Linked DNA regions of Homo sapiens: region 2 is linked to region 1. Evidence: fine-mapped expression QTL. A gene starts in region 1. The other region holds a variant in brackets. All regions are shown on one strand. Distances are between the middles of the regions. Region 1 holds the start of RNF19A (ring finger protein 19A, RBR E3 ubiquitin protein ligase). Region 2 has its middle 58 kb from the start of RNF19A.

What was found. PIP is the estimated chance that this variant, and not a neighbour inherited with it, causes the effect.
Region 2: its variant is the best candidate, but not a certain one, in a credible set for the expression of RNF19A in tibial nerve (GTEx, PIP 0.62).

Annotation. Positions count from the first base shown.
Region 1 is chr8:100,307,963-100,312,355 of GRCh38, forward strand. It overlaps RNF19A (ring finger protein 19A, RBR E3 ubiquitin protein ligase), which reads right to left and starts at 1,991. Exons shown (of 10, transcript NM_183419.4): 1 at 1,905-1,991. RefSeq lists silencers at 1,224-1,273, 1,544-1,593, 1,644-1,733, 2,094-2,483, 2,189-2,348.
Region 2 is chr8:100,249,368-100,253,760 of GRCh38, forward strand. No RefSeq gene overlaps it. Among named protein-coding and RNA genes, the nearest start is that of RNF19A, 58 kb to the right of the region's middle. The variant TG/T (reference allele first, on the strand shown) is at 2,654.

The DNA of each region.
Region 1 (4,393 bases):
CACTGTCTGGTTGACAGTATGGACAGTTCTTTATATTAAGTCTACTGATCAACTGAGGCATCCCCTAAATGAGAAAACAAAATTTCCAGTGGCCACTATTTGGTACTAAGAATTGGGTTGTGCTTCAACTCCTAAAATGATGCTGCAGTTTTAAAAATTAATCTTACTGGAATCTCCTGGAAGCTAAGATAGTGAAAAAAATACACTAACATTAGTTGCCAACTGTAATTTTTTCCTCAAAGACACCTTGCGATGACATTAAAATATTTTCCATGGACACGTAAAATTTAAACTTCAGTTAAATTTTATACAGTAATTTAAAAAAAGAGAACATTAAGCAGGGCATTAAACTAACAAATTTTAAAAGTGTTTTTTTAGCATAATTTGGTTTATTAAGTCCCAAGACTTAATTCTAAATTTTTACCATGAAACTGTAACAAGGAAAGAACATTTGAAAATACGATCATCGCCATTTTCTAAATAGAGAAGTATTTACATTTTAACTCAATTCAGATAGTTCAGTCAGTGTTAAAGAAGCAAAAACAGGCAAACAGGGTAATGGCTTGCATTATAAACAGAAGTGGTAAAATGTGTATTAAGACGGGTAATGGCAAAACTGAAAATAAAACTTAAGGCAAACCGTCAGACTTCAAACAACCAAAACTCAATGAATCTAGGTTAAAATAAGAAAAGATATTTTAAAAAAATGAAAAGAACCATGTTCTTTAAAAAAAAAAAATGTGGAATGTAAAGATCACAATTTAAGACAACCGATCAAAGGAAAGGGCTGCTTTAAGCCTCTACTGTTTACTAACACTTAAAATTAGCATTTCTAGCCAACATCTAGGTTTGAAAATTGCAACGGCACTTAAACGCCGTCTTTTCTAACGTCACCCCAACAGAACATTCTGCAACACTGTGGACAGTAAACATTAAGCAGAGTAAAGCATCGTTCGTGTATTTATATCTCCAAGGGTCAATGGGAAAAAATTAAACGTTTCTCTCTCCCATATATAGCCTTAACCACTCTCTTCCCTCTTTTTATTTACTGCCCTTGTCGCGGGGTTAATGAACCCTAAACTTCTTTTTCTTCTTCCCATTAATGGAAATGGGAAAAAAAGAGCAACTGCAGAGTGGAACCCAGATAAGAAAAACTGAAAATTCAAAGTAGTAGTATTACTTGCCGGGCGAGGGCTGGGAACACCCTAAAGGCTTAGCACGGGGAGACAATCCCGGAAGACCCCCGTTAACACATACTTCACCCCAAGGCTACACCATTTTGGTGTGATGTGTAATTTTTGCTTTTGAAGGAGGTGGTAGCAGTCCCGGACTAACCTTCCTCCGAACACAGCTCCCCTCCCTAAGGCCCCAGGCAGCACGGCTTGCGGGGCGATGTCCCGGCTCCAAATTTGCAGCGAGGCCCGGAAATCGGTCCCGTTAGAGCCGATTTCACCCGTCAGGAATGCGTTCCGCCCCCGCCGCCTCCCCGCGGCAACCGCCCTTGGGTCTCCCCCGCTTTAGGGGCAGGAGACAGCTCGAGGGGAGCGCCGCCTCGGCCCGTCATAATATCGCCGGGCCGGCCGCCGGCCGCACAGGCACCAGGAGGACAGGGCTTGGGGCGGATCCCACGCTCCACCTCGGCCCCCGCGGCCCGGGAGACGCCCGCGCCTGGGCCGGGTAGGGGACCCGGAGCTGACCGAGGCCTGACCCCCTAAGCCGGCCACGGCCCCGAGCCCACGCTGGACACTGGAGGAGACGCCTTTCCCACCGGACTTCCGAATCCATTTCTGTCCCGGGCAGGGGCGCTAGGGCTGCGGCCCGGCCAGAGCTCCCTGGGTCGTAAGCGAGAGCCGCCCCTTCTCTCCCGCTCCGGGGCGCAAGCTCCTCCGGGTGCCCGCCCGTACCTTTAACTCCTCAGAGCGGCGGCAGCGCAGGGTGGCGGGCGAGTAGGCCCATCTCCCAGCAGCGGCGACAGCAGCCTGAGGAAGCGCGGGGGAGGGTCCCTCCGATGCGCCGAGGCGCCTCTCAACCGGGGCGGAGACGACGGAGGGGAGGAGTCCCGACGGCCGCTTTCCCGAACTCCTCCTCCGCAGTTGTGGCTCGACGGCTGCTCCCGGGAACCAGCGCCGCAACTACCACCTCCCCCTCCCGCAGCCCCCGCTTTCCCCTCCTCCTCCTCCCACTTCTTCCTCCCGCCCCCGGCCGCCCCGCCCCAGCGCGCCGCCCGCGTGCTGTGCGTCATGGCGTCACGCCCACCGGGCCCGCTGCGGGCGGCTCTGGACGCGGCTGTTCCCTTGCGCACGTTCGTTCCGCGCCCGCGCAGGAGCCGCCCCGCTGCACCCGGGTGGCCCCGACTGCGGCCCCCACGCCTGTCCCTGGCGGAGGGGACTTCGCCTCGAGCGCGCCGGGCAGTGGGGCCGGTGTCTCCCTGGCCGGTTCTCCGTGGCCCAGAGAGCGTCTCCTCCAAGGACAGGTCGGGGTGGCTGGAGCTGCGCCCGGTTGAAGGGAGTTGCCAGACTCGGCGACTCTGGCTCTTGGCAGTTTGCCCGGCATTATTCATTCCTTTGTGTTCTCAGGGTTCACCTGCTAGATTGGCAGGCCGAGGGAGAGAAGTGCCGGGATGTTGCAGCTCTCGGCGAGGAAATGTCCTTTCCCAGAGGACGGCAGCACCCTGTGCGTCTGCAGCCGCCCTCTTAGTGCACCTGTCTTTGCAGAGGCTGTTAGGAACAGTACTTAGCCACAATAGCAAGCCTACGTGAGGGTTTGGAGAGTATCTTCCATTCATCTCTTTTATTTCATTTTTTTTTTACTATTTTGCAGTCAAGTAATCAGAATTCCTATTTCATCTCTAATACATTCCTAATTACTTTAATCCAGCTTTATTTGTTCCTTCGTCTCATATCTTTTCAGCCAGTCATATCCCCTTTGAATGTTTCAATCTACACTAGTCTTGGTATTCTTAGTTGAATAAACAAATTCCGTCTGGGCCTGGTGCATTTCCTCCTGGTTTATTCTCTTCAAGATTTAGATCACTCTAACATAGAATACTGAGAAACGAATGTGATAGAGGCTGGACAGAATGTCCATTTGCCATCTGTTACTTAACTAAATATATCACTCTCCCAGTCCTTGTTTAGTGTGTCTGTGTAATTTAAATTAGAAACAAACCAAGGAGCCATGGTCTTTCCGAATGTACTTGGTATCTTTGGTAACCCAGTAAATGTTTACCAATTAGAAAATTGAACAAGCTAGGCAGTTTAGGTTTAAGTGTCTTTGGCCTCGAATCTTAAAGGAAGTAATTATGGGTATGTTTATTTTCATTTATGGGAAGTTTTAAAGCTGTTATACCTTTAAATGCTACTTGAAGGCTGCCAGCGACTTTACATATGGGATGCTTTAAGCCTACAGATAGCACAAGAATAGTAAGTTAAGTACCCATATATAATATCCTTCTTGAAAATATATCAATATGTTGGCCGGAATTGGTGGCTCACGCCTGTAATCCTAGCACTTTGGGAGGCCGAGGCGGGCGGATCACGAGGTCAGGAGATCGAGACCATCCTGGCTAACATAGTGAAACCCCGTCTCTACTAAAAATACAAAAAATTAGCTGGGCGTGGTGGCGGGCGCCTGTAGTCCCAGCTACTCGGGAGGCTGAGGCAGGAGGATGGCGTGAACCCGGGCGGCGGAGCTTGTAGTGAGCAGAGATCTCGCCACTGCACTCCAGCCTGGGCGACAGAGCGAGACTCCGTCTCAAAAAAAAAAAAAAAAAAAAAAGAAAAGAAAATAGATCAACATGTTAAACAACATTTCAGCACAGATGGGGCACTGGCTTGAAAGGGGATTTTGAATAAAGAAGCTGTGCGGAATGAAAATGGTCTTACACTCTGTACAACGGTAATATTTTCCAGAGATGCTGCTTCTGGCTTTCTTGTCTTCCTAAAAATTAGAAGGACTTTCTATTCTTCACTAGGCCAAATAAATCTATTAAAAAACAAATACCTATTGAACATCCCCAACTTGAATTCCTAGAGGCACCTCAGATTCAGGCTGTCCAAGATGTAGTTTGTTCTTTCCTCAAAGCATGCTTCTTTCATTCACCCAGACACAAGCCAGAAACCTAGGATTGTTCCCAGGCCCCATTCTTTTTGTCCCTTCCAATTCATAACTAACCACCAAGTCCTGTTTATTATACCCCGGAAATATCCCTGTGCTCTCTGTTCTATATCTCCCTCTGCTTTTAGAGCAGTGTTTTCAAATTTGGCTGCATATTCTTATGTCCACGTTGCACCCAACAATTAAATCAGAATCACTGAGGGTGGTGCTCAGGCATCAGTAGTTTTTAAAACTCCCCAAGTGTGCTGGGCACGGTGGCACACACCTGTAGTCCTAG
Region 2 (4,393 bases), 59 kb before region 1:
AATTGATCTCTTTAAGAGATCTGTACACTGAAAACTACAAAGCATTTCTGAATATTATTCAGCCATAAAAAAGAATGAGGTAGTGATACATGCTATCCCTTGGATGAACTTTGAAAGTAGTAAGTGAAAGAAGTGGGACACAAAAGGCCACATTTTATTATTCCATTTATGTGAAATGTCTGGAATGGACAAAGCCATAGAGAGAGTAAATTAGTAGATGCCAGGGACTGAGAGGAAGGGGAAGTGGGAACTGACTACTAATGGGTAAAGGGTTCTTTCTGGGGTGATGAAAATGTTCTGGAGTCAGATATTAGTAACAGTTGTACGACCTTGTAAAAACACTGAATCGTACACTTTAAAATGTGAATTATGCGAACTGCATCTCAATTGTGAAAAATGAAGTGGGGTGGGGGGAAGCAAATCACCCAAGGTAGTGAATAACTTAGAGGCAAACTCTGGGGTTTTCCAATCAATCCTGATAAGGCCACCTACTTGAGTTTTTCAAGAACCTGCCAGGAGGAATAAAAACTGAGGAAGACTGAAAGACTACCTCCACCCCATGACTGGAAACAAAGTAAAGATGTCCTCTTACCCTTCCTATTTAACATTGTACTGGAGGTTGAAACCAGTGCAATAAGGGGTTAAAATGTTATAAAAGGCATCCAGATTGGAAAAGAAGAAGTAACCTTTCTTTATTTGCAGACACAATTATCTATGTAGAAAAGCCAATAGAGGCTGGGTACGGTGGCTCAAACCTGTAATCCCAGCACTTTGGGTGGCCGAGGCAGGCGGATCATCTGAGGTCAGGAATTCAAGATCAGCCTGGCCAACATGGTGAAACTCTGTCTTTATTTAAAAAGAAAACAAACAAACAAAAAAACCCCACAAAAATCAGCTAGGTGTGGTGGTGCACACCTGTAATCCTAGCTACTCTGGAGGCTAAGGCAGGAGAACTGCTTGAACCCAGGAGGCGGAAGTTGCAGTGATCTGAGATCAAGCCACTGCACTGCAGCCTGGGCGACAGAGCGAGGCTCCGACTTAAAAAAGAAAAAAAAGTCTATAGAATCTACAAAAAAACTACTAAAATTAATGTGATTTACAAGGTCGTAGGATTCAAGATCAATATACAAAAATCTAATTTCTATATACTCGTAATGAATGTAATCATAAATTGATATTTTTAAGAGATCTGTACACTGAAAACTACAAAGCATTGTTGAAATTAAAAAACTAAAAGATAGATATACTGTATTCATGAATAGGAAGACTTGATATTGTTAAGATGCCAGTTTTCCTCATATTGATAAATAGGTATCAGTGGTGATTCAGTCAAAATCCCAGCAGACTTTTTGGTAGAAATCTAGAAATGGATTCTAGTGTAAACACAGTATTCAAATCACTGGGAAATTTGGAAAGATTATTTTAAAAATAGTGCCATCACAAATGGCTTTCTATCTGGAAGAAAGTAAAACTGGACCTTTATATTACACTAAATGCTAAGATAAATTGAAGATAGATTTTATAAAATATGAAAAATTTAAAATCTCACTACAAACTACCAAAAGAGACTACAAGTACAATTTAGAAAGAGAGGAGAGCTTAATCATGACCAGAAGGTCTAAAATATTACAATTAAAGACACACAACAGGTTTCATATTGCAGAAAAAAAATGTAAAGAGTATGTGGAAATGCTGAAATATCTGCAACTTTTCTGTAAATCTAAAAATATTCAAAAATTAAAAGTTTACTTAAGGATAAAATAGAATGCACACACAATGCTAATAAAAGTCGAATGACATATTTGGAGAAAAATACAAGAGTCAAACTATTAACAGCTATAGTATAAAAAATATATTTATTTTCATTTTTTTAAATTTATTTTTCTGAGACAGAGTCTTGCTCTGTTGCCCAGGCTGGAGTGCAGTGGCGTGATCTCAGCTCACTGTAACCTCTGCCTCCCGGGTTCAAGCTATTCTCCTGCCTCAGCCTCTCAAGTAGCTGGGATTATAGGTGTGAGCCACCGCACCCGGCCCTATTTTCATTTTTATTTATTAACAGAGATGGGGTTTTGCTATGTTGCCCAGGCTAGTCTTGAACTCCTGGCCTCAAGCAATCCTCCTGCCTCAGCCTCCCAAAGTGAGCCACTACACCTGGCCAAAATACCTTTCAAACTGACAAGAAAACAATAAAAAAAAAAAAATAGGCAAAGGATATAAGAGCCAATTTAGAGAACACCAAACTCAAATACCATCTTCCAGCCCCTAGGCCAAAAAAAAAAAACAAAAAAAAACAAAAAAAAAAACACAAAAAGATGTACACATTTACTAGCCAGGAAAATGTAACATTAGATAATAGATAATACTTTACACCAAACAGTTTAAAAGTTTGTAAAGCTCTAATACCTATTGTTAGTAGAATGCAGGGAAAAGGGAACTCATGTATTGTTAGCAAATTGTAAATTGTGACAGCCTTTTTTGGGAGACAATCTGGTAAACCTTTTAAAAATTCAATAGACATGGACTTTAACCTAGCCATTTGATTTCCTTGAATTTATCTCCCATACTTAGAAGTACCAGAATATAAGGACGTAATTATTAGAATTTTTTTGCAGTGTTTTGTATTGAGGAAAGAAACAACAAATAACAAAGTGAA[TG/T]CTCATCAATATGAGAATGTCTGAATAACTGCAGCACATCTATACTACAGAATTCTTATGCAGCCATTAAAAAGAATGCGTTGGAGTTATACAGTTGACTTGGACAGATTTCCCAAAGATATTACTGAGAAAAAATCAAGAAAATTAATGTATATATGCATTGTGTGTGACTATGAACATGGAGAAAACTGGCATCACACACATTTTGTCATTTGCACTGGTTATGGGGGAAGATAATGAGGGAAGGAGGCAGAGAAGAGAAGGGGAGAACAAAACACAAAAAGAAGGCAAGGAAAAAAGGATGGGGAAATAATTTGTGCACATTTTAATTAAGCTTTCAATAGAAAGTCTCTAGAACATCAGTTCATGATACCTCTAAGGCAACTGTGATTTCCTTATCTAGTTGAAAGTATTACATTTTCTTTAAACAAGCAAAAAAGCAACAAAAAGCCCCCAAAAGCAAAATTAAAATGCCTTGGCTATATTAACCCTGAAAATTAGGTCCAATGGCTGTCATACATGATAGAATATTTGTAAACTAATGTATTTGGTATAAAACCTTGTTAAAAGTTAACTGTCTTTTCAGCCACTGTATTGCTTCAAACAACTTATTTTACTGTACAATATTATGAAGTGACTGGTTATCAACTCTGAATTGAGTCCAGAAACATCCTCATTCCCTTTGCTCAGTTGTTCTTCTGTCCCATCAGAATTTCCTCTTCATATATATAAATACTATAAGTATAGGAAAAATAAAAGGAAAGACAAGGTCCCTGCCCTCATGAGACTAGAGTTCCTTTAAGATTTGTTCTCCTAATATCTTGAATACAGAATTAAGAATCTGGAGGTATTAATACCTGGAACACATGGTGTTATGTATGTCTATATTTTACCTCCATGCAGGACAAAAAGTGACAGAAATATGTGATCCAACGCTATTTAGGCAAAAGGCTGGAAAGAAAAAAAAAAAAAAAAGCAAAAGCAAGACTATCTTGTCACCAGCCAGCCCACACATTCTAGAATTAGTCAACTCTTATAGAGCAAAGAGACTGCCTTATCTTACTGCTCATATAGATGAAAATGAGCTGCTTACTAACCCTGAAAACCTGGCTCTCTCTTGTACTAAAAAACAATTCAAGTGCAGACAGCCTTAATAGCAATTTCTACCAAACATTCAAGGAAGACATCATTCCAATCTTACATACTCTGATCACTGAAGTTTGCCCCAGGTTAACATTTGAAGAATCAAATTCACTACATTAACATGTTAATCACAATTATATGGCAGATGCTCCCCCCACCAAATAAGCAGCCAATAAAATTCAACGTATTTTCAAAGGTAAAAACTCTTGGCAAACTAGGAGTTAGAAGATAATTTACAAAATTCAATAAAGGATATCCTATAAATATATCTGTGGCAAATAATAGCTGAAATGATGAAAGGTTTCCCTTTGAGGTTATCAACAAATCAACAATGCCCCCTATAACCACCGCTATTCAGAAGTATACACTAGAAGTCCCAGCCAGTGCAAAAGGCCAGAAAAATAAATAAATGATGCAATGATCTAAGAGAAAAAAACCAAAACAATGGGAATCCCACCTCTACCACTTAGCAGCTGTGCAACTCCAGGCAAATTACTTAATATCTCTGTGCCTCAGTTACCCCCATCTGTAATGAAGATAGTAATACCTCCTTCACAGAGTTGTTCTGAGGAATAAGTATTTTATTTTGAACCAAC